3 linked regions of the Homo sapiens genome follow. The protein of the gene in region 3 interacts with the protein of the main gene of each other region in a biochemical or structural test. Each region holds a gene or a part of one and is shown on either strand. Other genes may lie near its edges. The genes, in order: CENPE, KIF23 and PRC1.

What was found.
Region 1: the proteins of PRC1 (region 3) and CENPE form a complex in vitro, tested with the Homo sapiens proteins (one study listed by BioGRID).
Region 2: the proteins of PRC1 (region 3) and KIF23 form a complex in vitro, tested with the Homo sapiens proteins (one study listed by BioGRID).

What each region holds. Positions count from the first base shown.
Region 1 is NC_000004.12:103,186,771-103,197,166, forward strand, and holds part of CENPE (centromere-associated protein E isoform 1 precursor), read right to left. Parts: intron 10,081-10,396; coding exon 9,989-10,080; intron 9,483-9,988; coding exon 9,393-9,482; intron 9,269-9,392; coding exon 9,150-9,268; intron 8,464-9,149; coding exon 8,344-8,463; intron 7,915-8,343; coding exon 7,833-7,914; intron 7,672-7,832; coding exon 7,604-7,671; intron 7,525-7,603; coding exon 7,459-7,524; intron 1-7,458. UniProt on the Homo sapiens protein: Microtubule plus-end-directed kinetochore motor which plays an important role in chromosome congression, microtubule-kinetochore conjugation and spindle assembly checkpoint activation.
Region 2 is NC_000015.10:69,408,742-69,419,107, reverse strand, and holds the start of KIF23 (kinesin-like protein KIF23), read right to left. Parts: upstream 4,760-10,366; 5' UTR 4,643-4,759; coding exon 4,632-4,642; exon of another isoform or gene 3,999-4,631; intron 3,115-3,998; coding exon 3,045-3,114; intron 1,726-3,044; coding exon 1,597-1,725; intron 1-1,596.
Region 3 is NC_000015.10:90,988,148-90,999,230, forward strand, and holds the start of PRC1 (protein regulator of cytokinesis 1), read right to left. Parts: upstream 6,389-11,083; 5' UTR 6,271-6,388; coding exon 6,260-6,270; intron 478-6,259; exon of another isoform or gene 1-477. Other genes in the region: VPS33B (vacuolar protein sorting-associated protein 33B), read right to left, coding at 10,828-10,907. UniProt on the Homo sapiens protein: Key regulator of cytokinesis that cross-links antiparrallel microtubules at an average distance of 35 nM. Essential for controlling the spatiotemporal formation of the midzone and successful cytokinesis.

The sequences.
Region 1 (10,396 bases), on a different chromosome or scaffold from region 3:
TTTAGGTTCATAGGACTGGATAGCAGTGGAAGGCTTGTCATTAAGCTGCGATCTGAATGACCTGAGAAGAGGAAGCTGGTCCCAAAAAGATCAAGGGAAACAGTAGTCTAGACAAAAAGAATAGCCAAAACACTTAGTCACAAAGCAGAATGTGCTCAGTGTGTTCAAAAAAATAGAAAAGGCAGTGTGGCACAGTTGGTGAAGTGAAGACAGGAAAAGACAGAATAAGAGAAGTAGACAGGGGCCAGATTATGCAGGACTTTTTAAGTGAGATCTAAAACTCTGAAATGTTTATATTCAATGAGAAGCCATTGCAGGGCTTTATGCAAGGGAGTAATAGAACCCTGCCTTGCTAGATTGGGGAAGTTCTCCTGGATAATATCCTGCAGAGTGTTTTCCTACTTTGTTCCATTCTCCCTGTCACTTTCAGGCACACCAATCAGACGTAGATTTGGTCTTTTCACATAGTCCCATATTTCTTGGAGGTTTGTTCATTACGTTTTATCAAATTCAGGAAATACAGAGAATGCCACAAAGATACTCCTCAAGAAGAGCAACTCCAAGACACATAATTGTCAGATTCACCAAAGTTGAAATGAAGGAAAAAATGTTAAGGGCAGCCAGAGAGAAAGGTCAGGCTACCCACAAAGGGAAGCCCATCAGACTAACAGCTGATCTCTCAGCAGAAACTCTACAAGCCAGAAGAGAGTGGGGGCCAATATTCAACATTCTTAAAGAAAAGAATATTCAACCCAGAATTTCATATCCAGCCAAACTAAGCTTCATAAGTGAAGGAGAAATAAAATACTTTACAGACAAGCAAATGCTGAGAGATTTTGTCACCACCAGGCCTGCCTTACAAGAGCTCCTGAAGGAAGCACTAAACATGGAAAGGAACAACCGGTAATAGCCACTGCAAAAACATGCCAAATTGTAAAGACCATTGAGGCTAGGAAGAAACTGCATCAACTAACAAGCAAAATAATCAGCTAACATCATAATGACAGGATCAAATTCACACATAACAATATTAACTTTAAATGTAAATAGGCTAAATGCTCCAATGAAAAGACACAGACTGGCAAATTGGATAGTCAAGACCCATCAGTGTGCTGTATTCAGGAAACCCATCTCATGTGCAGAGACACACATAGGCTCAAAATAAAGGGATGGAGGAAGATCTACCAAGCAAATGGAAAACAAAAAAAGGCAGGGGTTGCAATCCTAGTCTCTGATAAAACAGACTTTAAACCAACAAAGATCAAAAGAGACAAAGAAGGCCATTACATAATGGTAAAGGGATCAATTCAACAAGAAGAGCTAACTATCCTAAATATATATGCACCCAATACAGGAGCACCCAGATTCATAAAGCAAGTCCTCAGAGACCTACAAAGAGACTTAGACTCCCACACAATAATAATGGGAGACTTTAACACCCCACTGTCAACGTTAGACAGATCAACGAGACAGAAAGTTAACAAAGATATCCAGGAATTGAACTCAGCTCTGCACCAAGCAGACCTAATAGACATCTATAGAACTCTCCACCCCAAATCAACAGAATATACATTCTTCTCAGCACATCACACTTATTCCAAAATTGACCACATAGTTGGAAGTAAAGCACTCCTCAGCAAATGTAAAAGAACAGAAATGATAACAAACTGTCTCTCAGACCACAGTGCAATCAAACTAGAACTCAGGATTAAGAAACTCACTCAAAACCGCTCAACTGCATGGAAACTGAACAACCTGCTCCTGAATGACTACTGGGTACATAACAAAATGAAGGCAGAAATAAAGATGTTCTTTGAAACCAATGAGAACAAAGACACAACATACCAGAATCTCTGGGACACATTTAAAGCAGTGTGTAGAGGGAAACTTATAGCACTAAACGCCCACAAGAGAAAGCAGGAAAGATCTAAAATTGACACCCTAACATCACAATTAAAAGAACTAGAAAAGCAAGATCAAACACATTCAAAAGCTAGCAGACGGCAAGCAATAACTAAGATCAGAGCAGAACTGAAGGAGACAGAGACACAAAAAACCCTTCAAAAAATCAATGAATCCAGGAGCTGGTTTTTTGAAAAGACCAACAAAATTGATAGACCGCTAGCAAGACTAATAAAGAAGAAAAGAGAGAAGAATCAAATAGACCCAATAAAAAATGATAAAGGGGATATCATCACCGATCCCACAGAAATACAAACTACCATCAGAGAATACTATAAACACCTCTATGCAAATAAACTAGAAAATCTAGAAGAAATGGATAAATTGCTGGACACATACACCCTCCCAAGACTAAATCAGGAAGAAGTGAATCTCTGAATAGACCAAAACAGGCTCTGAAATTGAGGCAATAATTAACAGCCTACCAACCAAAAGAAGCCCAGGACCAGATGGATTCACAGCCGAATTCTACCAGAGGTACTAGGAGGAGCTGGTACCATTCCTTCTGAAACTATTCTAATCAATACAAAACAAGGGAATCCTCCCTAACTCATTTTATGAGGCCAGCATCATCCTGAAACCAAAGCCTGGCAGAGACACAACAACAAAAGAGAATTTCAGACCAATACCCCTGATGAACATCGATACAAAAATCCTCAATAAAATACTGGCAAACAGAATCCAGCAGCACATCAAAAAGCTTATCCACCATGATCAAGTGGGCTTCATCTCTGGGATGCAAGGCTGGTTTAACATACAAAAATCAATAAACGTAATCCAGCCTATAAACAGAACCAAAGACAAAAACCACATGATTATCTCAATAGATGCAGAAAAGGCCTTTAACAAAATTCAACAACACTTCATGCTAAAAACTCTCAATAAGTTAGGTATTGATGGGACGTATCTCAAAATAATAACAGCTATCTATGACAAACCCACAGGCAATATCATACTGAATGGGCAAAAACTCGAAGCATTCCCTTTAAAAACTGGCACAAGACAAGGATGCCCTCTCTCACCACTCCTATTCAACATAGTGTTGGAAGTTCTGGCCAGAGCAATCAGGCAGGAGGAGGAAATAAAGGGTATTCAATTAGGAAAAGAGGAAGTCAAATTGTCCCTGTTTGCAGATGACATGATTGTGTATCTAGAAAACCCCATCGTCTCAGCCCAAAATCTCCTTAGGCTGATAAGCAACTTCAGCAAAGTCTCAGGATACAAAATCAATGTGCAAAAATCACAAGCATTCTTATACACCAATAACAGACAAACAGAGAGACAAATCATGAGTGAATTCCCATTCACAATTGCTTCAAAGAGAATAAAATACCTAGGAATCCAACTTATAAGGGATGTGAAGGACCTCTTCAAGGAGAACTACAAACCACTGCTCAAGGAAATAAAAGAGGATACAAACAAATGGAAGAACATTCCATGCTCATGGGTAGGAAGAATCAATATCGTGAAAATGGCCATACTGCCCAAGGTAATTTATAGATTCATTGCCATCCCCATCAGCTACCAATGACTTTTCTTCACAGAACTGGAAAAAACTACTTTAAGGTTCATATGGAACCAAAAAAGAGCCCGCATTGCCAAGTCAATCCTAAGCCAAAAGAGCAAAGCTGGAGGCATCATGCTACCTGACTTCAAACTATACTACAAGGCTACAGTAACCAAAACAGCATGGTACTAGTACCAAAACAGAGATATAGACCAATGGAAAGGAACAGAGCCCTCAGAAATAATGCCACATATCTACAACTATCTGATCTTTGACAAACCTGATAAAAACAAGAAATGGAGAAAGGATTGCCTATTTAATAAATGGTGCTGGGAAAACTGGCTAGCCATATGTAGAAAGCTGAAACCAGATCCCTTCCTTACACCTTATACAAAAATTAATTCAAGATGGATTAAAGACTTAAATGTGAGACCTAAAACCATAAAAACCCTAGAAGAAAACCTAGGCAATACCATTCAGGACATAGGCATGGGCAAGGACTTCATGTCTAAAACACCAAAAGCAATGACAACAAAAGCCAAAATTGACAAAATGGGATCTAAGTAAACTAAAGAGCTTCTGTACAGCAAAAGAAACTACCATCAGAGTGAACAGGCAACCTATAGAAAGGGAGAAAATTTTTGCAATCTACTCATCTGACAAAGGGCTAATATCCAGAATATATAAAGAACTCAAACAAATTTAGAAAAAAAAAAAACAAACAACCACATCGACAAGTGGGCGAAGGATATGAACAGACACTTCTCAAAAGAAGACATTTATGCAGCCAAAAGACACACGAAAAAATGCTCATCATCACTGGCCATCAGAGAAATGCAAATCAAAACCACAATGAGATACCATCTCACACCAGTTAGAATGGCAATCGTTAAAAAGTCAGGGAACAACAGGTGCTGGAGAGGATGTGGAGAAATAGGAACACTTTTACACTGTTGGTGGGACTGTAAACTACTTCAGCCATTGTGGAAGACAGTGTGGTGATTCCTCAGGGATCTAGAACTAGAAATACCATTTGACCCAGCCATCCCATTACTGGGTATATACCCAAAGGATTATAAAATCATGCTGCTATAAAGACACATGCACACGTATATTTATTGTAGCACTATTCACAATAGCAAAGACTTGGAACCAACCCAAATGTCCAACAATGGTAGACTGGATTAAGAAAATGTGGCACATATACACCATGAAATTCTATGCAGCCATAAAAAATGATGAGTTCATGTCCTTTGTAGGGACATGGATGAAGCTGGAAACCATCATTCTCAGCAAACTATCGCAAGGACAAAAAACCAAACACCGCATGTTCTCACTCATAGGTTGGAACTGAACAATGAGAACACGTGGACACAGGAAGGGGAACATCACACACCGGGGCCTGTTGTGGGGTGGGGGGAGGGGGGGATAGCATTAGGAGATATACCTAATGTAAATGACGAGTTAATGGGTGCAGTATACCAACATGGCACATGTATACATATGTAACAAACGTGCATGTTGTGCACATGTACCCTAAAACTTAAAGTATAATAAAAAAATAAATAAAAATAAAAAAACGTAAAACTGGAAAAAAAAAGAGAACCTTGCATAAAGCTCAGCAATGACTCTCACAATGGATCCACTATGACTACTGGGTGGAGGATGGATTGGGAAGGGGCAAGAGCAGCTGCAGGCAGCCCCATCAGGCAGCTGGGGCAGGAATCTCGGTGAGAGATAATACCAGCTTGGGTTAGGGAGGTGGCAGAGGAGACTGCTTGTAAGAGAAGCAGTGAAGGGGTGTCTTGTTTATTGTTTTTTTAATCTCAGAGCCCAACACCATGCTCAGAAGACAATAACAACTTAGTAAATATTGTGAGTGATTTGAAAGAAAGTCAAAGCTTTACGTTATTTCTCTCTGTGGAGATTTTTGAGACTAGGCAGGTAAATATGTATTACCAGTTAAGGAGGCTAATTTTTCTTGCACAGTGTCCACTACAGATGACACAGATACATAATAAAAGGGCAAAGTGGTAATGAAGGCAGCATGAGTGAAGGTTAAAGATGAGAACAAGCATTCATATTCAAAGATACTCAGAGGCCCAATCTATGAGGGAGGAGTTCATGTAGAGCAGAAGGAAATAAAGTTAGATTGGTTAAGAGTGGCCAAATCTTGCCCCAGGAAGTGATATACAAAAGCAATGGTTAGTATATTCGAAATCCTTATGATGACTTCAAGAAACAAAGACAAGGGTCATGGAGACAAGGTTCCAGGAGACTGACATAGTAATTCAAGAGAGATGAGAAAGTAAATGAGTGTAGCACCCATGGAAATGTTTAAAGGTAGGATCAGTAAGAAATGGGACAAGTGGACAAAGAGAAAGGCAGAAAAAGATGAGTCAAAATTGACTTAGGTTTCCAGCTTAGGCAGCTAGGATAATGCTGGTTTTACTGGAAATAAGGAATATTCACTATGGTAGGAAGAAAATAGTTTCGTTTTAGACATATTAAAGTTTGAGATAATGATGGGACACAATTATAACCATCTTTAGGAAGACATGAATTAGAATTCAGAGACTATAGGTAAAATATTTGGCAGTCATCAACATGGAAATGATGACAGAACATTTGAGAGCAAGAACTTGAGTAAGAAACGTCACAGAATACCTCCAAGTTTTTTTTTTTTTAATTATTTTTTTAGGAGGGTAGGGAAAAAGAAGCCAGGGTAGAAAACAGAGGAGTACAGCTAAGAGAAACTGGATATTATCATCCCACCAAGGCCAGGAGATAATCAGAAAAGAGCCACCTCTAAAGAGACAGAGATGACTCTTTAGAGACTTCTTTCCAAGAAGATTCTTAGAGTAAGTGGGTAGGCTGGAGGGTTGGAACAGATGGAACACAAATGACAGAGCATCACGTAACATGAGGAAAATCATCAAGTAGATCACTGAATATGCCAAGAGTATTAAAGCTAAATTATTAAAAGTTAAAATTATATGAAATATCACAGTCTTGGATGAGAAAACTAAAGAGGTTAGGGTTTGGTTTTTTATTGTTAAATTAAAACAAGATTAAAGTCTACTAAAATAAGTTATACAATTTTATAGCAAAATAGCTAAGGTGAAATTAGGATTGAATATTAAGTAATTAATAATCTAATTTTATAAAATCTGAAAATGAATAAACATATTATAGATTGCTTTTTTCCCTGAAGTTTTCTAATCAAATAATCTTAAATCATATCCCACATCAAGCTAAAGAATTTAGGCCCTAAAAATGCAGAATAAAGCAATATGGTAAAAGATAGAAAAGGAGCAAGAAAGAAACAGCAATAATTTAGTGTGGAAAGAAGGAAGTGAAGGTTTACTAATGTGGAATATAGGAATGTTTGCATAATGCATATATTCGCTTATTCAGCAAATCTATATTAGACATAAAATAGGTATAATGTGTTGGGGCTACCAGGATGAATGCAGTATCACTCCTCAATGGATTTACAGTCTAAAGTACTACGTTTACAATACAAAATATATTTTATTGTTGTACTTAAGTAAAACCTAAAGTAATGTGATTACTTTTTAACCATCCAACCTAGATTTTTGTTGATCACATAAGTCTAAATTACATTGGCTGAGATTTTACAAAAAGACCCTCAAATTCTAAGATGATCTAAAGTGTTAAATGTGTATAGAAAAAAATTCTACTGCATTAGTGGTTAGAAAAAACATCAATTCCTATAACCCTATAGCCCTGACATTTAAATTTTAGGAGATGGCAACCATGACATAACAGGAAGAAAGATCCTCTGAATTTTTCCTACGACATTTTAGCTAGGAATTTGATGATACTGACAAGACTAAGCAGACAATTTGTAGATTTCCTCCCACATTTAGTTTAGTTAACAGTTCTTATTAAACCAAACATCCAGCAACTAAATTAAATTTTGTTTTGGCCCATACAGTACATTATTATGGTTCATTAATACTCACCAAATGGGATACCTTAACAGATCCTTCACAATTAGAAGGTTCACCCTTCTCTCTGCTTTCCAAAATCTAGATAGAAAAGGCAAGCTGTAGAAAAATTAGTGCATTCTTACTTGGAAAGATCTAACAGATAGATAGAATTACCTACCATCCTAAAGATGGTATGAGAACGACTGCTTCTTTGATTCATTTTTGTTTCTCCATAATGCCTGCTCTCTGTAAAAATGAGTTATATTTCAGCTGCATATATAATAAAATCCATAGAAACACAATAATTTTTATTTTAACTTAAAAAAGTATGATTTGAGGTCCAAACGTGCTTGATTGAAAAGATAGTTTTTACAAGTGTTCTAAAGAAATACAGCATAAAGTCTTACTTTCTCCCTTTGTAATCCATTTCAAAGCCATTTCTGATGTATATACAACTTCTTCTGTGAGATCAGCAACATACACATTCCTCTGAAACAAGTTTAATTATGGAAAGATTAGAGAAATAGAAGTCACAAGTTTGCTTTTCAAAAGAAGGTGCAAACTATTATAGAATTCATTTGTGAAAGTTAAAAGTGGCAAATGGAACCATAATTCTGTAGGAATGTAACAAATAATTCTATGAATACCCACAATTTATTTCACATACCAAAGCACAACAAATTCTAACCTGATACTTCCAACTTGCTATTTTTACACTTAAACCAAAATATTAGAGCTGTCAGTATTTTAAAACTATTCATATTGTTTAAAAGATGAATATAAATACTTCAAAAAAACCCTCACATACTATAGAAATAGGAGACACTTTAAAAACTATAGAAATTAAAGGTAAACATTCAAGAACAATAATCTCAATAAGTCAGTCAATTTTAAAGCTCCCTTAAGTCTGCTACTCACATTGACATCTTCTCGAATAATTAAAGGTTTCATTTTTTGAGTGCCACAGAGTAAATCTGTAATGGTTTCATTGTATATTTCCATGTAAGATACACGTAAGAGAAATTCCCTATCAGGAAACTAGAAGAAAAAAAATTATATAAAAACACCAGGAAGCATCCAATTGTGAAAACCTAATGCTAAATGCTCATGTGCTTAAAGAGGTAAAATGTATGTAAAACAAACTAAGAAACCCCTTGGTTCTACTGTTGACAAAATAATGAACACAAAAATATAAAAGCATCGTTACAGAAATAATGAAAAGTGAAGTACCATAAAGCTGGGAGAACACCAACTCTAGGCTCAAACTCTAGGCTCAAAATAAAACCCTCTCAAAAGATGTTCTTATTTTAATAAAAATGCTAATTTGAAACCAACTAACTCGGTTGCCTATTCTGGCTTTCTGCTTCCCTTCTTTTTTTACCTACATCCACTTTCTACTGTTCCTTTATAATCACTGATAGTTAAATGGTTAGGTGGAGCTAACCATTCTGATAACATTTTCTTGTTCCTTAATGCCTACTTTTTGTTGAGAGTATTATTGTTGCAGAATTCAAGAGAAAGAATAAAAGAACTTTAAGCTTTATAAAGTAAGTTGTGGAGATAAAAGTGAATCTATGCTATGCCTTTCTTCTTTCCCCATGGATAATCAAACAATAACTGTAAATCTACTTCCTTTCATCTTTACAAGAGAAATACACTAAGACTGGTACCCAGTTTTTACTAGTTTTACCTGTACGTACTAGAAATCCAGTTAAGTTACTTACCTTCTTAATTTTTTGGAAAATGTCATGAATTGCCCTGGGTATAACTCCCAAATGATCTTCTGAACCCATCATGGTATATGTTTTTCCTGAAGCAGTCTGTCCATAGGCAAATATAGTACCTGCAAAAAACAAAACACACATACGCAAAGATTAAAAACAAACCTATAATGGGTAAAACTATGCATGCTTGTTGCACAGACGCCCAAGACTAAAATGTTTCTGCAGCATTGAGTGAATACAAACCATTGTAGCCTTGTATGGCAGAATCGATGATTGGTGCTGCTATTTCTTCATACACATTTTTGGTAGTTTCATTACCATGAAAGACACGATCTAAACAACAACAACAACAACAACAACACAGAAGTTAAATCAAATGAGTCCACTGTGTTTTCATTCCAAATTAGTAATTATTCCCAAAAGTAAAACTGTCAGAATGTAGGATGATCAACTATTTAAGACACAGTATTTTTTTCAACTTTTTGGTTCTCTGAAAATACCCTTCCCTAAGGTAAAATGAGTTCATTTTCACACACAAAAAATACACTACAAGTCAACTTTTCTATGTTCTTTCAAGAGGCAATAAGGTATAGTGTTTGCACATGGGGGTCTGGAATCTACCTAGATGCAAATTAGATAACTGTGATTATAACTGTTTTAAATGCCAATTGGTTACCTTACTTAAATACATGATGGATAAACAATTTTGTTTCCAGTGAAGCAGTTTATAGAAGGCTTAGTCTAATCTTTAGTGACAAATCTAATATTATTGATAAGCCTTTTGTACTTTTAATAGCAAAAGGATAACAAGGTAACTTTTGATGCTATTATAAGCTTACCAAAATTGAAGGATTTACTTCCATCAACTTGATAAATGACATTATTGTCAGTTTTCCAGTAAACTTGGGCAGTTTCTCCAAGTGATTCTTCTCTAAAAGAATAAAAACACCGCATTTTAACCAGTCATAAAAGTCATGTCATAGGAGGAATAATTGAAAAGATTTCACCTGCTAAAGAATATTTTGAAAGATAGTAACATAAGAGAATGACAGAAAGTCCATCTTTGAGGATTCAACTCTTAAATGGAGCTTCAGTGACCTTCTGCCGCCTCAAAAGTGTTTTCTTGTGAAGGCTTTCATTCTCACCCTCTCCCCCAGTACTGGTAAACAAAGGGATGGATTCAAAATGCAACTCTGATTATGTCTGTCTTGCTTAAAATTCTTAAAACCTTTTGGAAACTTATGAAA
Region 2 (10,366 bases), about 22 Mb from region 3:
TTCACTCTTGTTGCCCAAGCTGGAGTGCAATGGCGCGATCTCGGCTCACTGCAACCTCCGCCTCCTGGGTTCAAGTGATTCTCCTGTCTCAGGCTACTGAGTAGCTGGGATTACAGGCACACGTCATCATGCCCGGCTAATTTTTGTATTTTTAGTAGAGACAGGGTTTCATCATATTGGTCAGGCTGGTCTTGAACTCCTGACCTCAGGTGATCCACCCACCTTGGCCTCCCAAAGTGCTGAGACTGCAGGCATGAGCCTCCATCTGGCACTGCTCAATTATCAGTATTTCAGCATGTATTCAATAGGCTCATCTCTATGAAGAGATTATGAACTAGTTCCCTATTGTCTAACTCACACGGGCAGTTCCATCTAGCACAAGTTGTACAAAAGTCTCAGCTGTGACGCATTAAAAATAAAAAAGCTACTCCTTCATTACAGTAGCTCTGGTCTCAGTGATTAATAATGGGGCTCAGACTAGGGTGGTGGCAGTGGAGATGGAAATGAAAGGACAGTTTCAAGACACATGTTGGAATATAACTGATAGGAGCTACTAATGAACTAGTTATAAGGAGAGGCAAGTAAAAGGTAGGTACCAGGTTTCTGGCTTGAGCAACTGGACACACGATAGTGCCATTCCTTGAGAAGAAAACAAGGGAGGAAGTATTTAGAGAGGGAATAAGAAAAATCAAGAACTCCTTTTTGGGCATGTAAAATTTGAGATGCACATGTGACATCCAAGCAGAGATATCAAGTAAGTGGTTGAATGTTGAGAGCCAGAGAAAAGGTTTCAGCTGGAGATACAAGGAGAGCTGGAGGGGGAGACAGGAGAGTGCTGCTGACAAACAGGTTAAAATGAGGATGAAGAGGTATACATCAAATTTAGCAGCAAAGAGGCCACTGGTAGTCTTCTGAAGAGCAATTTCACAGGAATAGTAGGCACAAAAGAGTGAGTGACAGCTAGAAGTAGAAATGGTAGCCTGAATTAATCCTACTGCATTCCCACGGTCCCCTCATCTTTAGCACATCTAACTTTCTGTCTTATTTATATGAGAATTATTTGTTTACCATATATCTTAAGTTATAAACTTTCTAAAGGCAAGGAGTATGTCATGCTCTTTTTTTTAATCTCCTTCCACCCTCCAACTATTAGCTTAGCACATTTGCTAAACAATATTTTTGAGCTGACTCAAAACTTTACTAAAAATAAAAACACTGCATAGGAGGTTGATGCAAGTAAACAATGTCTATTATTAAATGTTATTTTCATTTCCACACATCAAGTTGTATATATAAAACTGCCTAGCACAATCATGTATCATTCCACATTAAATCATCCCTAACACATGCTCTAAGAAACAATAATACTCAGTGTAAGAAATTATCTGCTAAAAGCAATCCTCTAACCCCAGCATACCAAAGGTATGTCTGTGCATCCCAGAAGTCAAAAACACTTTAGATACAGTGGTTATAATGAAGTAAATAAGTCTTTTGAAAATGTGGGCTCACAAATGAACTTTGTTACATCTAAAAATCTAGAAGTCATTCAGGAAACAACATATTGAGTAAAAACAACTTGGTCCAAATCAGAATTACCTCCTTATAGTCTCCATTTCGGTTGAGTCTGTAGCCCTCAGGAGTATGAAGCTGAACAGTTGTATTATTGATCACTTCTATGCAACACTCTTGATCAGGAAAGCCCAGTGGGCGCACCCTACAGTATACCTGAAGAAATAGGAAGGTGCTTTAAGAAGAAAGTTCGACCTTTTGCCTGATTTTTCACTTAAGCTTCTCATTCATTCATTCATTCAACAAACATTCAGTCTCTCAATTTAAGAGCTCTGTATCTCCAAGGGCTAAGAAAATTAAAATCTGCTACTTGAGATTGACAAATACAAGTATGTATTAGATATGAGAATACTTTAAATACACACAAAATTAAAATAAATTTTAATAAAAATCAAATTGCAGTGTATTCACTATTATATTGTACACAAATAATAGTTATACTACTACTAATATCTCTAAAAGTCAACAACATGTCACACGAGATTTTTAAAACTGTTAGAATTTCTTGGAAATGGATGTCAATTTAAAAACTTGTCAGCTTAACCCAACATTTAATATACAAAGACATTTTTATTTATTTATTTATTTAGAGACAGAGTTTCTCTCTTGTCACCCAGGCTGGAGTGCAATGGCATGATCTCAGCTCACTGCAACCTCCTGGGTTCAAGCAATTCTCCTGCCTCAGCCTCCCGAGTAGCTGGGATTACAGGCACCCACCACCACACCCAGCTAATTTTTGTAATTTTAGTAGAGACAGGGTTTCGCCATGTTGGCCAGGCTGGTCTCGAACTCCTGACCTCAGGTGATCCACCCGCCTCAGCCTCCCAAAGTGCTGGGATTACAGATGTGAGCCACCGCACCCAGCCTACAGAGACATTTTTGAAAGCAGGGGAGGGGGCTTGAGGAAAACTCATTCAGCTGTGTGCAAAGCACCCGGTTCCCTTAACTCAGAGCCAGGGACCCACTCCAGTGGCAACGAGGGATAGATTTAAAATACCTCAGAGCAAAGAACCCTTTTTGTTTGCCATTTGTTGTTTTGTTTTAAAATTCTTATTCTTTTTGCCTGCTTCATTTTTTCTTCATAATTTAACTGAATTAAACTTGGTCCCAAGAAGTTTGGAACTCTCCTCATGCCATCAGTTACTGTATGGCATGAACTCAGTTCATATTCTCTGGGATGAATATGAACCCAGTTGGAGATTTTTAATTATCTAACTCTCCAAATTATAATTACAGAAGGTATGCAGTTGACAACCAAAGACTTCATTTTACTGGACTAATTTAATTAATCTTATAGAGAAAATTTCACAGCTAGCACTAGTTTTACACAATGTAGTACATCCATTTAACTAAATGTTCTTTGATTATACTTCCACATGTCTTCTTCTTTCCCTTCCAAGCATACACATAAGACAGAAAGGACTGAAGAGATAAGTTTCTTAAACACCACACATAAATTTACAGGGATACCTTACCCCAACTGGGTCTTTAAGGTTCGTTTGGGACCCTTTTTTCACGGTAGGTTTCCGGGGTGTCTTAGCTCTCCTGGTCATAGATTAAAAAATAATAATAACTTTTTTTTCAGTTCAACACGAATACAAAAGCCTCACCTAAAACTTATACAATCTTTCTAGGTTATCTGTAAATTATCCCTTAGCAGTTGCAAAACACTGCATCCCAAATAACATTAATAATCATAGTAGCAGAGTGTTTGTGGCATGCGTAATCCAAAAGTAATTAAAATTTGCTTTAGAATACATTTTTGGTACCAAAGCTACCTACTTATTCTCTGATTAGTTCTATACTTAAAATGGCTTGCATATTTTCTTGAGCAACAATTTAACAGAGGCACTACAAATTATAACTGCCCACACTTTACAGACTGACAAGCGATTAACTTCAATACACTATAAAAATGCACATGGAGGAAACCATTCTTTCGTCAAGGGTTACGCCTGTACTTTCAAGGAACAACCAGTCATTGAATGCTCAAAACATTACTCTTTGTCTCCAAACAAAATCTGGTCCCAAACTGCCAATTTCTTGGTTTCTTAAGTAGGGGCAATCAAAAAGTTATTTTGATTGATTTCACCATTTCTCTAGCATCTCATCTTTTTCCCTTCACATTTATCTATAGGCTAGATATACATTTAACACATTAAAATTAAGTAAGATTATTGGCTTCGACTGTAGTTTAAAAATATTTTTCCAAACATATTCTCAGATGAAACACAAGCAAATTCGTGTTATTCAGTGCAAAATACTTTGTGGTGGGCTTAAGTTAAACTCAACGTATATTTCTTATATATAATTTTTTTCATCTAAAGATTTTGACTTCGGCCTCTTAATAAACAAGTTGTCTTTTGCAAACGACTCCCTAAATGGTAATAAAGCCAATCCTCTCCTTTGCACGACAAATATTTCTTTACCCAGGAATGATGCTGCGCCGAAAATATTAGCTTAGGAATGTGGGCGGAGGTTCTCTGCGGCCACAAAATACAGCAGAAGTAACTGGCCTGTGTAAGCGGATGGGCTCGGCCTCAAGGACAGGGTGCTCGGCTGAAAAAAAAGCTAGCGGCGATCACCGGTGCCAGGGCTCTCCAGAAACGGAGCCCATCTAACCAATGCCCAGCACACTCGCTCTGCTCCACACACGAGACCACCTCCGACCCGCACTAAGTTGGCCAACTGCACTCTGGAGGCGGCGGCAGCCAGCGAGGGAGAAGGGAAAGGCTGTCCCGGGACCCCGAGGAGGACTGCCCCGCCCCCGGGAACCGGGTGCGGCGTAAAACAACCCCGGCTCCGGGCCGACCCTTCCTGGCCCCTTGGAGGCCCAGGCGGGGCGGCGGGGGGCGACGCGGCAGGGGTCTCCGCGCCCAGGCTCCCGCGGAGCGGCCACACGTGGAGGTTCCCACTTTGGGGTCGCGGCCGCAGCAGCACCGGGCGGGATGCTGTCCGCGCTGCCCGCGTACGGCCGCGGCCTGAGTGGAGACGCCTGCCCCCAGCCCCGAGGCCTCGGCCCCCGTCCGCCCTCTCTCCCTGCTCGGCGGCCTCGTACTCACGCTGACTTCATGGCAGCAGGCTCCACGCCGCCCAAACGCGCATGCGGGACGGCTGGCTGGCGAAGACTGCGGGACGTTAGGACCGGCAGCAAGAACTAGAACTTCGCGGCTAAGGCGCGGTGCTCTGCGAAGCCGGCGGCGACGCTAAGAGCCCAGGTGAGCTCCCGCCTGGCGCATTTCAAACGGGCCAATCAGCGCCCGTCCGCAGGGAGAGGCAGGACCTCCGCGGAAGTGACTTCGCTGCCGGAAGTGGCGCTTGTCTCCTAGGCGACCGACGCTGAAAGGGCCGCGGAGTCGCGTGTCAGGGCTGGAGGGAGATCTTGAGGTATGGTATTTAAACTCTTCCGCCTTGCGATGACGAAACTGAGGGTTTCTTTTCCTCCATCACAAGAAGTTCAATGGAAGGGCCTTTCCAGGGTTGATTCAGAGGTCGGAATGTCGTTCTGGTGAAAAGTGTTGTATTCCTGTGCTGTGCCCTGCTCCAAGTCTCAGGCTCCGTCTCTCTGGCTCCCAAGTCACCACATTATCTTGGCGTCTTTTCTCTCTCTGATTCACCTTTCCTGGGTTTCCCTCCAGCTCTGTCCTATATGTACATTATTTTATCAAATCTTTTTTTTTTCCTTTTTTATTTTTTGAGGTGGAGTTGCTCTGTCGCCCAGCCTGGACTGCAGTCTTCAGCTCACTGCAACCTCCACCTCCTAGGTTCAAGCAATTCTCTTGCCTCAGCCTCCCGAGTAGCTGGGATTACAGGCGCGCACCACCACGCCCAGCTAATTTTTGTATTTTTAGTAGAGATGAGGTTTCACCATATTGGCCAGGGTGGTCTAGAACTCCTGACTTAAGGTGATCTGCCTACCTTGGCCTCCCAAAGTGCTGGGATTACAGGCGTGAGCCACTGCGCCCGGCCTGTTTTATCAAATCTTGATTGTGTTTGATCCTGGCCTTACGGAGATGAATAAAATTTGGTCCTTACCCTTAAGGGGCAACCTTTTGAACCTACTCTTGCCTTAGATGAACTGATTCTATATCACTTCTGTCTTTGACCCTAAGCCGATGACTACCAAATACACATCTACACCTGGGCTCTCATGGAACTCTAGCCCCTTCTCAACTTCCTAAAGGACCACAGCACTGGTAAGGATAGTCACAATGTCCTTGGCCAATATTGTTGGTGCTCAGGAAACGACACCCCAGAGTATGGCTCTTTGGCACACTGAGTGCTTTGAACTAAAGAAGACTGAAAGTGCCTCAGAGAAGCCTTAAAAGCAAAGTCTGTCTCTGACTTTCTCCTGCCCTCTTGTCTCCCACCCCTCTGTGTCTCCTAAAGCAAATAATAGAAACCAGAATTTCTGTTCCCCAAGGCGGGTCATGGAAACTAGAACCCCTTTTCTCCCAAGCAAGCCAGAAACATTATTCTAGAAAAACCTAGAAATATTAATCTAGCCTTCCCCCACCTTTTTGTGTAAGAGCTGGCCATAAAGACATTCTTTGATGTACCTTGTCATAAGACCCTCGTTCCAAAAGGGTCTTGCCCTACACTCAGGAAGAAGGAAAGCTGCACAGAGAGGCCAAGAAGAATCTGAACAGACAGGACTTGCTGGATTCCTCCTTCAGTCTGTTACTATTAGATCATACTCCTTTTGTACAATCACATTTCTACACAGCTGTCCATTCTTCATCTCATCTAAGCATAAAAATGGACAGCTTTCCCTGGGTCTTTGGGTCTTCATTTCTGAAGGCACTTACATCCCATAAAACTGTGATTCAATAAGTTATCCATTTATCTTGCTAACCTGTTTTTTGTTATGGTAGTGTCAGCTGTGACCCTTAAGATGGGTAAAGAAAAGTATCACACCTTTTCCACCCCTACATTGCACATTAGGATGGTTCCAACTTTTCCTATTACAGATACAGCTATAGTGAATGAATGTGGAAATTTATACAATGCAGGTAAATATGTAGGAAACATTTCTAGAAACAGAATTGCTGAGTCAAAGAGTATACATATGTGTAACATTTCACAGATATTGCAAATCATTCTCCATAAAAGCTGTCCAAATGTACACTCCCACCAGCCTGTATGAGAGTGCCTATTTCTCCACAATTCTCAAAGTGTTATCAAACTTTTCAGTAGCTACCAATCTATTGATATCTCATATCAATTGGTGAGAAAAAACATGTAGTTAAATTTTTCATTTATTTTCAGATAAATGTTGTCTATTCATATATTTTAGAGCCCTTTTGATTCCTTCTCTATCAACTGTGTTCATATTCTTTGCCTCTTTGTTCTATTGGTTGTTCGTTTTTCTTAATGATCTGTGAAAGTTCTTATATTAAAAAAAAATTGGTCCTCATCCAAAATACGAGTTTAAATACTTTTATTTTTCACATTTTGGTTATTTTTATTTGTATATGTTTTGTGACAGCTTGGAAAAAATTTCAGGTAGACAGATTAATCCGTCTTTTCTTTTATGGCTTCTGTTTTGTGTCATACTGGAAAAATACATCCATTCTGAGTTTTTTATTTTATTTCTCATTTTTTGTTTCCTAGTGCTTTTATTGCTTTGCTTCCTATGTTGAAGTCTTTGAATGATTAGGACTTTGTTGTCAAGCTAGAGTTTGGTATTTTGTTGGTTTGTTTGTTTTGTTTTGTTTTTTGAGACGGAGTCTGTCACGCAGGCTGGAGTGCAGTGGCGCAATCTCGGCTCACTGCAGCTTCCGCCTCCGGGGTTCAAGCAATTCTCCTGCCTCAGCCAGGCTGGTCTTGAACTTCTGACCTCAAGTGATCCACCTGCCTCAGCCTCCCAAAGTGCTAGGATTACAAGTGTGAGCCACCGCACCTGGCCTAGAGTTTGGAATTTTTATCATTTAGGAATTGGGCTTGGTTGCTGACTACTTATATCCTAGTTGCTCTTCAGTTTAGCTTCTACCTCAGACTCCATTGGAACTCTTGTCACCAAAATTACCACTTCCTTGATGCTAAATCTATTTGACTTTTGTCTTACTTGGCTTCTTAACAACACTAAAAAATGTTGCCCATTCCTTTCTTCCCATGCCTTTATTTTTTCTCCTAGCTGTCTAGCCCTTCTTTCTCAGTCTCCTTTGTGAGTTCTTTTTTTCTCCCTTAAATGTTGGGGCTCAGGGTTTAGAGCTGGTCACTAGGTGTGCCTTTTCCCTAGGCACTCTCAAGCACTCATATGGCTTCACATCCCATTCATGTTTGCTCTTCTGAGCTCCAGAGCCATATATCCAGCTGTCTTCTGGATTCTCCACTTCGATATCCCACAAGCATCTCACATCTAACACATTCTAATCTCTTCTCCCAAACTTGCTCCCTCTCAGTGGATGGCATCCACCAAGCCAGAGTCTAAAGCAACATTGTTAGCTTTTCTCTCTTCTTCTGTCTCAATATTCAATCACTAAATCTTAACAGTTCTACCTACTAAGTAGCCAAACCTCCAAACTGCTCCACTTTTCTCTGTCTCCTCAGCCACCATCTTCTCTTGTCTGATAAAGACAGCAGTCTCCTAACAGGCCTCTCTGCTGCCACTTTCCAATTCAGTTTCCATTTTGCTCATCTCTAAATCATGGATCTGATTATGTCACATACCTATATGAAACTCTGCAGTGGTTCCCCATTGTTGGAGACCCACCACAGGGCCCTGAGACGCTTCCTCTGGGGCTCATCACCCATCACTGCCCCCTGTCCCCTCTAGTCATGTTGAACTGCAGTGCCCTGAACACGCTGGGCTCACACGCCATTCTCTGTGCTGTCACGCTCTCCTCCCTCCTTTCCTCTGACAATGCCTTGCCTTCAGTTCTCTGCAGATCTGCCAGCTACCCTGCTGTGGATACTGGGCCCCGTGGTACAGCCCCCACGCCCCCAAAACTGCCCTTTCCCACTCACTGCACCTGTTGACTTGTTTCAGCACTCACATTCCAATTGGCAGTCACTGTTCATTCCTGTCTCCTCTACTGGCTTATCCCCACAGCCTCACTAGATGGCATCGTTGCATGCCCAGTGCCTAGCAGTGCAGGTGCCCCATACATGGCTTGAAGGGATGAATGAATCATCCCTTCAAAGAACGCTCCAGTTGAGGACCCAGTTACATCGCACCACCTCCAGCTTCTCTTCAGGCCAGTTTCTTCTTCCTCCCTCACTTCTGTATTAAAGTTCTCTGGCTTATTAATTTCCTTAAAACTACCAAATAATTACATCATTTTTCTATTCAAAAATAGCAAAGGGCTACCTATAGCCATTAAAAGATTTGCATTTTACCATAGAATTAGAGATCCAGATCAGGAGTGCGCGTAGGAGGGTGGGGAGAAGAGAACTGAGGGGCTTTTTTCTTTCTAAAGTCAAGTATTTTAGGTATAATTTACATACAGTAAAATGGACCCTTTTTAGTTGTATCGTTATGTGTATTTGACAAATATATAGTGTGCTGTAACCACAATCAAACGTATATTTCCATCACAGTGGAAAATTCTCTGGGCTGCCCCTACTCCCAGGCCTTGGCAACGACTTTTCTGATTTTCTTCCCTATACTTTTGCCTTTTCCAGAATGTCTTTTCTTTCACTCAGCATAATGCTTTGATATTCATCAATGTGTTGCATGTACCAGTAATTTGTTCCCTTTTTGTTGCTGAGTCTATTCCACTGTATGAATGCAGGACAATTTATTCATTCACCAGTTGGACATTTAGGTTGTTTCTACTTTCTGGAGATTATGAAACTGGTATAATTATTTGTGTAAAAGTCTTTATGTAGGTGTGTTTTTATTTCTCTTGGGTGGGATTGTGGGTCTTACGGTAAGTTTAACTTTATTAGAAACTGTTAAATTGGACCAGGCGAGTCTTATCCAAATCATTGAAGAGGGGCTGACACTACACAAATTCGAAATCATATATTAATCCAAACACCCAGATAAGCAAGTCCAGCTGTGGGAACCCAGTAAACACCAATGACCAGAAACTGCTGAAGCCCCGAGTGTTTGAGGGGAGGTGGTAAAATGGAGACAGCACTGCCTTGGGATCTTGGACATGCTCCGCACACTGTTCCCTCCCAGGCCCTGCTGGTCACTCAGTGGCCTTAGAAACATTGTCTCAGGTTCCCAGGCCATGAATCTCTCTCGCCAGGCCATTTGTAACATGAATGGTTAGATGTTAATGTTTACATACAGAAAACACAAATTAATAAAATCAACCTGGGGATGTGTGTGTGTGTGTGTGTGTGTGTGTGTGTGTGTGTGTTGGGGAGTTGGGGGACTGTAAAATTTACACAAAAAGAAACAAATGACTTGAACTATATTTCAAATAAATAACATACACAGAAAGGGGGAAATAACCCAGGTAACTGTGACTATTTAGAATCAAGCTTGCCCTCAGGGTCAAGACAAAAAAAAAAAACTTGAAACGTTTTGAATTCTAATTAGTAGGCACAGACATTAGTTGGTAATTCTGAAACAACATTCTGTACATTCTAGGATTGAGCAGATAAAATGTATCATGGGCTGGGTGAGGTGGCTCATGCCTGTAATCCCAGCATGTTGGGAAGCTGAGGCAGGTCTATCACTTGAGGTCGGGAATTCGAGACCAGCCTGGCCAACATGATGAAACCCTGTCTCTACTAAAAATGCAAAAATTAGCCAGGCATTGTGCCACGCGCCTGTAATCCCAGCTACTCAGGAGGCTGAGGCAGAATCGCTTGAACATGGGAGGCAGAGGTTGCAGTG
Region 3 (11,083 bases):
TCCCCAGGCAAACACTCCTTTTGCACTTCATTTTGAAGACAAAAGAATGCACAAGTTAAAATCCTAATATTACCATTTTATTAAAAATAACTTTTAAGATCCAATCTGTGGCCAATATTCGATCTGGATGCAAAACCCTGGCTTCCAGACAGGCCAGCCAGGGGCACTGCTCTGAAGGTCATTACTTAAGTATCCCAGTCTCCTCAGTCTGACAGACCTACCCCTGCCCAGCCAATCTCCACATAACAGCTAGTTGTTCATAATAAATCCCATCAGATCCCCGCTTAACTACTCCCCTTCAAAGGCTCCACTGCCCTCAGGAAATAGTTCAACCACCTTCTGTAGAAAGGCCTTCTAAAACCTCTCTCCGAGTCTGTCTGCTAATCTCTCCCACTTGACACTCCCCAGGTCTCTGGCCAGCTGAACTTCCCGGGCATTTCCTGAACAATGCCCCTCAATAAACCACATGCAACTCTCATTTTCTGATGCCACCGCGCTTTGTACATTCAGTTCCGTCTATATGCCACCACCTCCTCTGGAGAGCTGTGGACTTGTCACTCACCATTCCCCCCAAGCCCCCTAGTAGACCATAAACTCAAGGGCAAGGACCACCACATCTTATTCATCTTCATTTTACCACACCCTAACTCACAGTAGTTGTTCAATAGATATAAAATGAATGGCCCTGAATTCCTCCCAAAGGGTCCTATGCTCCTAACCTACCTAACCTAATAGAGGTATTATGCACTCTGGATCCTGACGAAGGTTTACAAGCAGGGCTGCCTATCTCTGTAACACATCTAGAAGGTAAAGTGATCGTTTTTCTGAGTAAAAAAATCTAGCACAATGGGCAAAGAATCTGAATAGACATTTCTCCAAAGAAGATATAAAAATGGCCAATAAGCACATGAAAAGATGCTCAATATTAGTCATTAGGGAAATGCAAATCAAAACCACTTCATAGCCAACAGGATGGTATAATAAAAAAAAATATATAGCAAAAAGTATTGGTGAGAATCTAGAGGAACTAGAACCCTCAGACACTGCTTGTGGGCATGCAAGACGGTACAGCCTCTTTGGAAAATAGTCTGGTAGTTCCTCAATTGATTTTTTGTTTTTTGAGACAGGGCCTCACTGTCACCTGGGCTGGAGTGCAGTGGTGTGATCATAGCTCAACGCAGCCTCAACGCCCTGGGCTCAAGCAATTCTCCTACCTTAGTCTCCCAAGTAGCTGGGACCATAGACGTGCCATCGTGCTTGGCTAATTTTTTTTTTTTTTTTTTTTTTTAAGGTTTGCCATGTTGCTCAGGCTGGTCTTGAACTCCTGGGCCCAAGCAATCCTCCCACCTCGGCCTCCCAAAGTGTTGGGATAACAGACATGAGCCACTGCACCCGGCCCCTCAGTTTAACAGAGTTCATACAACTCAGCAATTTTATTACTGGGTATTTGCCCAAAAGAAATGAAAACACATTTATACAAAAACTACACAACTGTTTATAGCAGCATTACTTATAATAGCCAAAAAGTGAAAAAAAAAATACAAATGGCCATCAACTTATGAATGGGTAAATAAAATGTAGTATATAGGCATACAATGGAATATTATTTGGCAATAAACCTTGAAAACATTATGTTAAGTCAAAGAAGCAAGTCACAAAAGACCAGAGCTACGGTTCCGTTTTTATGAAATATCCAGAATAGGTAAAAAGTAGATTTGGGGTTTGTATGGTTTTTTGAGACAGGGTCTCCCTCTTTCACCTAGGCTGGAGTGCAGTAACATGATCATGGCTCACTGCAGCCCCAACTTCCTAGGCTCAGGTGATCCTCCCACCTGAGCCTCCGGAGTAGCTGGGACTACAGATGTGAGCCACCACACCCAGCTAACTTAAACAATAAAATTTTTTTTTAGGCCGGGTGCGGTGGATCACTCCTGTAATCCCAGCACTTTGGGTGCCAAGACCGGCGGATCACGAGGTCAGGAGTTTGAGACCAGCCTGGCCAATATGGTGAAACCCCGTCTCTACTAAAAATACAAAAATTAGCTGGGTGTGGTGGTGGGCACCTGTAATCTCAGCTACTCGGGAGGCTGAGGCAGGAGAATTGCTTGAATCCGGGAGGTGGAGGTTGCAGTGACCTGAGATCACGTCACTGCACTCCAGCCTGGGTGACAGAGTGAGACTCCATCTCAAAAAATAAAATAAAATAAAATAAAAAATAAAATAAATAAATAAATAAATAAATAATTTTTTTTTTTTTTTTAAGAGGTAGAGTCTCTCTATGTTGCCCAAGCTGTTCTTGAACTCCTGGGCTCAAGTAGTCCTCCCACCTTGGGCTCCCAAAGTGCTGGAATTATAGGTGTGCGCCACCTTGCCTAGCCGAAAAGTAGATTTGTAGTTGCGGCTGGGGAGAATTTGGACCATGGGGTGAAAGGGGATTGACTGCTAATGGGATTTTAAAGGGGTGATAAAAATGTTCTAAAATTGATTGCAGTGATGATTGCACAACTCTGAATATTCTAAAAATCACTGAATTATAATATACAATTTAAGTACATTGTATGGTATGTGGATTATACCTCAAAGCTGTTATTAAAAACATCTTGGCACATAATCTAAAACATTTTTGGTTTCTTTTTTTTTTCTTTTTTTGAGACAGAGTCTCAGTCTGGCACCCAGGCCGGAGTGCAATGGTGTGATCTCAGCTCACTGCAACCTCTGCCTTCTGGGATCAAGCGATTCTCCTGCCTCAGCCTCCTGAGTAGCTGGGACTACAGGCACACGGCACCACGCCCGGCTAATTTTTGTATTTTTAGTAGAGACGGGGTTTCACCATGTTGGTCAGGCTGGTCTCAAACTCCTGACCTCGTGATCCGACCGCCTCGGCCTCCCAAAGTGCTGGGATTACAGGCGTGAGCCACTGTGCCCGGCCCATAATCTGAAATGTTTTTGATTTGTGACTTAATTGAAAAACTTACAGATTTTTACTATGGCCGGGCGCGGTGGCTCGTGTGCAATCCCAGCACTTTGGGAGGCCAAGGCGGGCGGATCACCTGAGATCAGGAGCTCGAGACCAGCCTGGCCAACATGGTGAAACCCCATCTCTACTAGAAATACAAAAATTAGCTGGGCGTGGTAGTGGGTGCCTGTAATCCCAGATACTCAGGAGGCTGAGGCAGGAGAATCACTTGAACCCGGTGAACCCAGGAGGCGGAGGTTGCAGTGAGCTGAGATCATGCCATTGCACTCCAGCCTGGGCAACAGAGCAAGACTGTCTCCAAAAAAAAAAAGAAATAAAAATTTTACTAATATATAACGTATTTTATTTGGCCTGTTGGAAATGGGTGTTTGGAATTACCAAACACCCATTATTATTATTCTAGTTAGAGACACTTCCTGTAAGAGGATCATTTTCAAATTAAAAACTAACATTTCTCACTCTTCCTAACATTCAAATTGTACTGAACTTAATTTTTTTTTTAAACTTAAATCTTGTATCATCCTTGACACTTCTTTCTTATATGCCCGCCATTAGCATTATCTACACAAGACAGGCAGAATCTCACTCCTCCTGACCTCTGCTGCTACCACTACCACCCCCACCCTGGTCCAGGTCACCACCACCAACTTCTTGCTGTATGGCAGGGGCCTCTTAACTGGTCTCCCGGCTTCGAAGCTGGCCTCCTTAAGTCCATTGTCAACACAGGAGCCCCAAGTCCTAATCTTCTACTCAGAACCCTCCAACGACTTGCCATCTCACTCTAAGGAAAAGCCTCTGACTTTCCAAAGACCTATGGAGCCCCATTCCATCTGAAAGCCATTTCTTTTGACCTCAGTGCTCATTCTATTCCTGTCACAGCGACCTCCTTGCTCTTTCTGGAACATACCAGGCGCTATCTCCCCTTAGGGCACTTGGATTTGCTGATTCCTCTACCTAGATCTCTTTTCCCCCATGCTGCATGGCTTCACCCTTTTCCTTCTTAGGTCTTTGCTCAGAGATCACCTTCTCAGGGAGGCCTTTCCTGACCCATCTCTTTAAAACCACAACCCCCCTTCCTACACCTTCAGTACTTCTTAACCTCTTGATTTCTCTACATAGCACTTACCACCATTTAAGACTAACTTATTTATTACACTCCTCTTTTGCTATTAGAATATAAACTCTGTGAGGGCAGGGATGTCACTTTTGCTCACTGCTATATCCCCAACACTTGCAATGGTTCCTTGTATATAACAAACATTCAAGAAGTATTTTTCTTTTCTTTTTTAGTATAAATTATTATTTTTTAAATAGAGACAGGGTCTTGCTATGTTGCCCAGGCTGGTCTTGAACTCCTGGGCTCAAGTCATCCTCCCACCTTGGCCTCCCAAAGTGCTGGGATTACAGGTGTGAGCCACTGTGCCAGGCCCAAGAAGTCTTTTTGAATGAATAACGTGACATTTCAAAAAAGTTGTATGATCTTAAGATGCTTCAGAGCAATCATTATGAACAATTATCATGATACACTTAAATACTCCCTGGCTAAATTGTTTCAGATAATCCCCTAAAAGCAGCAAGTCTGAGTTTTTTTTTTAGATTCACTGAAAAAAATCAAGAGTGCATACAAAGACTACCACTCAAGGACAAAAAGGTTGTAAAATGAGTCAGTTTTTCCAGTCTTGAACATAAATCACTGGACTGGAAGGTATCTCACAGTGGTCCTTAAATTATTTTCTACCTTCAGGCAGCCTTCACTGATCCACTGCCCTATTTTTTCTTAGCATTCCAGAGAAGGAGCTTTGTTGATCTCCAGTTCAACCTGTTTCGGGGATCGATAACCATAATTAATTCTGGCCAGAGTTTCGTTTGAGCCTCAGAGGTCAAAGCTGCAGTGAGCAATCTCGCCACTACACTCCAGCCTGGGCGACAGAGTGAGACCCCGTCTCAAAAAAAAAAAAAAAAAAAAAAAAAAAAAAGTTAATTATATCCATTAGCCTGGAACCAACATTAAAGGGTAAGTTTTCTCCTGCTTCATTCAATCCCTTGATAGAGGAGATGCCTACATAATTCATAAACTGTTAATGGACTTTTTTTTTTTTTTTTGAGACGTAGTCTCACTCTGTCGCCTAGGCTGGAGTGCAGTGTCGAGATGTCGGCTCATGCAACCTCTGCCTCCTAGGCTGAAGCGATTCTCCTGCCTCAGCCTCCTGAAAAGCTGGGGGTACAGGCGCGCCACCAGGGCCAGATAATTTTTGTATTTTTAGTTAAGACAAGGTTTTACCATGTTGGCACTCAATTCTCATTATTCTGAGGGCAAGCATTTTAAAAAGACTGATCAGAATTAGTGATCATGAAATGAAGAATCTTACAAAGCCTTAGAACAATCAGTTCCACCAAAAACTACACATTATTTAACGCTGTATCATCAGAAAACTGCATCCACAACTTTTAGAAAATAAAGTTAATATTTGGAAGTCACAAGGTTGGTAAGTGGCAGTGTCACCGTCTGGTCCCGATTTCAAGTCGGACAGTCCCTCCCCAACACCGCCTAGGAAGTTATTAAAACGACCGGAAAAGAATTCCATAATCCGTTTCTTAACTTGCAAAGAAACAAAGCTATCTTTCCAATTCAAACAAAACGTTAACACCGCTGGCCAGATATAAAGAAAAACAACGGGCCGGGCACGGTGGCTCACGCCTGTAATCCCAACACTTTGGGAGGCCGAGGTGGCAGGATTACTTGAAGCCAGGAGTTCGAGACCAGCCTGGCCAACATAGACCGCGTTTCCACAAAAATAAAAAAAAAGAATAAAACAAAGAAAAACAACGATAAATAAACTTAACAGCTTTAAAGAAAAGCCACGACCACAGAAGGTTTACAACGAGTCATCTGCGCCAAGCAGCGGCACCTGAGACGCTGCGGGCGGGGAGGGTGGGGTCCGAGCGCCAGCGCTGACCGCCTGGGTGGAGGCCGCCCCGGGCCCCGGGCCTCGACTACCCTGCCGCGTCCGGGCACCGGCGCTCGGCTCCCACCCGGGCGTCTGAGCCTGCGGGCACCTGCGGCCGCCGGCGGACAGCGCGTCAGGTCTCACCGCCGCGGCCCTCGCACTGGCTCGCCGCCTCCAGACCCTGCCCCTCAGCGCCCCCGGCCTCCCTCGGCGCCGACTGCCGTGACGATCTAGGCCCGGGACCCCGCACGGGTCCCGCACCCCTGAACAGGCCCCGCAGCCGAAACGAGCGTCGCTCCCTCCCGCGTCCCCTCGATTTCCCCGCAACCCGCACCTTCTCCTCATGGCGGACGCTCCAAGCAGCCGTGAGTCCAGGTCCAGACCTACTCCACACGGCCCCGAGAGCAACAACCACCCGCAAACACCGGCGATGTCACTCCGCGTAGCCGCTCCGCGAGCCGTTGAGCCCCGCAAAATTTCAAACCGCGCCACGGGGCGAAGCCTCGTCGCGATTGGCGTCGCGTCCCGTCGCTCCAAGAAAATCCCCGCCCCTCGGGCTGAAGTCGCGGGTGCGCAATCGGGGTGGGGACTCGCGAGCAGGGCCTGGGAAGCGCCGGAGTGGCGGCGGGGGATGACGTCACTGTCTGTGAGTGGCCGGGCGTGGCCTGCGCCTCCCGCTTCCCTGGCTTGGCGGCAGCCTCAAGGGACTCCTCTCCCAAGCCAGCTACCTCATCGGAGCGCCGCCCCGCCTCGCCCCGCGCAGTTTGGATTCGAAGTGCGCGGGCGGGGAGGGAGTTGAGAGCACCGCGGCTACCTGGCTTCCCTGAGTCCCGGCTGCCGGGAACGGGCGCGGGGGTGAATAGGTAAGTTAGCGCCTAGTTTCCCTCGCTCATCCAAGAAGCGAAGCTTGGAATCGATCTTTGGTGGGACTCTTCCCCAGATGTAAGAAGCCATACACTAAAGGGGAAGGGAAGGAACATTGAGTCCTGCTCATGGGCCTGGAACGTTTCAACGCCAGTTATCCCATTTAACCTCCACAATCGCCATTGCAGAGGAAACGCAAAAAGATTTGAATGATTTGCCTAAGTCACGTTATCAAATTAGATGAGTTTCTAAATCGTTACATGAAAAATTTAAAACTCAAAATAGACATTACTTTTGTAGCCTCCTTTCCTCGATGAACATGTTACATCCCTAAATGCTTATATATCACCGTTTTTTCCCAGTGATTCATGGTGGCATGGTGGCATGAATCCTGGTGTGTAGATATCTCGCCCATTCTGCTATTGATATTTAGATGATAATTTAAAAGATAAGGCTGGGCTGAATATCTTCATACATAAATCTTTGTGTATGTATGTATTTATAAATGCATCCTGCATTTTCGTACGGCTGATTCCTAGAGGTGTAATTACTGAATGCTCCCTTTATTAATTTGCCTTCTGCACAAAGCCTCACCGGAAAAGTACCCTCCTTTTGTTACCCTCAGCAGGGCTGAATTCTATTGTACTTCTAAACATCTTTGCTCATTTTGTAGGTAAAATAATAATACTGGCATTTCCTTGTTTGGCACTTGATTATAATTGAAATTGCACATTTTTCGTGTTTATTGGCCAACTGTAACTTAAGTGAATCCTCTTCATATGCCTTTTCCCTAAAGGTAAAGGATGCTTGTTTGCTTCACCTTCAGAACCATATTTTTCTTATTTTCAGAAAAACTTCATTAGTGCTTTCAATGTTCTTTTTACTTTTTTTAATTGAGACGGAGTCTCGCTCTGTCACCCAGGCTGTAGTGCAGTGGCCCAATCTCAGCTCACTGCAACCTCCGCTACCTGGGTTCAAGCAATTCTTGTGCCTCAGCTTCCCGAGTAGCTGGGACTACAGGCACGCACCACCATGCCTGGATACTTTTTTTTTTTGTATTTTTAATAGAGACGGGGTTTTGCCATGTTGGCCAGGCTGGTCTTGAACTCCTGACCTCAGGTGATCCGCCTGCCTCGGCCTCCCAAAGTGTTGGGATTACAGGCGTGAGCCAACGCGCCCGGCTTCCATGTTCTTTTTAACTTGTCAGCAGCATGCCAAACATTCACAGCACCAACACAGTGGGCGACAGGCACCACTTTTTCAATTTCCTTGCACTCTGTGATTAACATTGACACCACTAATAGAGTAGATGGTAGCACTACTTTTAAAATTTACTTGCATTCTTTGTTGATTAAATTAACAGGAGAGCTTTTCAGAAAGCTTCACAAATTTGTGATCTTCATACTTGTTCTTAGCACCAGCATTATGAAGTATCCAAAGAAAAGGCAATTTTTTCTCTCTTGTCCTTTACACTGAGGTGCTGAGGCTAACAAAGTCATAGAACTGATGCAAAGATATCCATTCAGAGCATAAACGCAGCATGTAAAACACTGTGTAATACGCGTTTATAATATATGACCTTAGCCTGGGCACTGTGGCAAAACCCTGTCTCTATAAAAAATACAAAAATTAGCCAGGTGTGGTGGTATGAGCCTGTAGTTCCAGCTACTTGGGAGGCTGAGGTGGGAGGATCACTTGAGCCCAGGAGGTCAAGGCTGCAGTGAGGCATGGTCACGCCACTGCACTCCAGCCTAGACGACAAAGCAAGACCCTTTCTCAAAAAAAAAAAAAAAAAAAAAAAAAAATCCTATTACAGGGTCATATATTTCTACTGGATGGAAGTGCAATGTTTTGCCACTGTTTAATCTTTTTCTGATGCCACCTATTCTTTCTGTGAATTAACAGCCCTGTTGGCAGTGTCTTTGGTCTTGCACACTAGCTTGACATAACACTCAAAATTCTAGCTAGATGCTTGAGGAATGCCTTTTCCTTGGAATATATTCTTATACAGAATTATCATTATTCTTATTTATTTATTTATTTTTTGAGACAGAGTCTTGCTCTGTTGCCCAGGCTGGAGTCCAGTGGCATGATCTCGGTTCACTGCAGCCTCTGCCTCCTGGGTTCAAGCGATTCTCCCACCTCAGCCTCATGAGTAGCTGGGACTACAGGTGCGCGCCTCCACAGCTGGCTAATTTTTATATTTTAGTAGAGACAGAGTTTCACCATGCTGGCCAAGCTGGTCTCAAACTCCTGACCTCAAGTGATTTGCCTGCCTCGGCCTCCCAAAGTGCTAGGATTACAGGTGTGAGCCACCGTGCGGGGCCCAGAATGATCATTATTCTATAGGAAGAATACTTTTGATGATCCAGTAACTCAGGTTTTGATTTTCTTTCTTCCTTTTAGTAAGTGGCAGCACTGTGGAATGGGGAACAGATGGAAGAATGAGCAGCTGGGAGGCACACTCTTGCAAAAACCCAGGCAAGAGACAATAAAGACCTCTGTCGTAGGGATGGTGAGGAGAAGATGAACTAGAGACATTTAGAAATAAGAACCAATAGCACAAGGGAACCAGCTGAAGGTGGGGCATAGAAAGAAAAAATCTGAGGTCAAGAATACAATTTTTTGCTCATTTGAACAAAGTTTGGGAATACAGGAAGAAGAGCAGATTAAAGGATTCAAGTAGGGACAGGAGCTTCCACTCATGAGTTTATTTTGTACATGCTGAGTTTGAAGTGCCTGTGGAATGACCAGGTAGGAAATACTTGTGTGGCGCTAAGGAGTGAGATGAAGGCTTGAGATCTGGAAGTGGATGACAACAAAGGACAGAGAGAGGGGAGATGTCAGCAAATGGGATGAGCAGAGAGGAGTAATCAAAGAACAACCTAAGAGACTGTGGGAGGACAAAGAAAGGGTATTATGGAAGCTGAATAAGACAATTTCAAGGAAAGCATAGTCATCAGTGAGATCAAGTTGGAAGAGGCCTGAAAAGAGGCCACTAATATAGGTGGTTGTAATTCCTTCTTTTTTTTTTTTTTTTTGAGACAAGGTCACAGCTTACTGCAGCCTCGACCTCCTGGGCTCAAAGGATCCTCCCACCTCAGCCTCCCCAGTAGCTAGGAATACAGGTGTGTGCCACCACCCTCGGCTAATTTTTTTATTTTTTGTAGAGACGGGGTCTTCCCATGTTATCCAGGCTGGTCTCAAACTCCGGGGTTCAAGCGTTCCTCTTGCCTCGGCCTCCAAAAGTGCAGTGATTACAGGCATGAGCCACAGCACCTGGCCTATATTTCATCATTTTTAAAAGGTAAAGAGAGAGAGAAAGGCTACTAGCATCAGTAATGAGGAGGGTGCTGGCACATTTATAGGAGCACTGTTTGCTGATGCCTGAAATGGCTCTAATGGCACACAATCTTTCATTCTGCAATAAGAAACAAACGCTTAAAATTGAAGTGCCTCCTTAAATTAAAACAACAAAGTCATTTTCTCAAAAATGTAATGAATCACAACATTTTAGAACTGGAAACGTGCTTGCTGGTCACCTCAGCCATCTCCCTCATTTTATGGTAGAGGAAACTCAGGTACAGAGTGGTAGAGTGATTTTTACAGGGAAGAACCAGACCAGGCCTGGAGCCACTACAAAGTCCAGGCCAAGAAGCACAGGAAGCCCCTGTAGCAAGCTCCAATGGGCTTTCACTAATAAAGATGGAAGTGCGTGTCCAGAACGACCAACGTATTACATCTGAGAGCAGAGGCTTTATTTACAATGACATTCAAACAGGATTTAGCAAAGGATGCCTCTTCCTGCTCGCATCTTAGCAGCATGGGTTGTACTTCATAAACAGAAAAGAGAAATATCCTGGGAGCAGGAAGTGAACTCTTTTCTCAGATAATGTTCTCTAAATCCCAACACGTTCCATGCTCCCGGCTCTTAGCAGGTAGTTGGTGGACACTTGGTTATAGCAGCTGGGTGCCAGATGCCTGCATCTCACTGAGGAATGTGTTCAGGGAAGATGTCAACACTGGCCGGGAAAAACATCAGGCTTTCACCTCACTCATGGCCTCCATAAGGCGAGCGCTGTTTGTGACTGCTGTCGTCAGGAAAATGAACCTGTAGCCTAAGGAGTCAAATGCAGCAGCAGAAGAGACAGCACAGATCTTAGGCCCCAACGGCAACCCATAGAGCCTCTCCAGTTCCACAGTCCCCACGGGATCACAGCACCAGTTTATAGACAGAGACGTGAGTGCCATGCTCTTGGGCACCACTGCTTTCTATGACTGGTATAACTGGGCT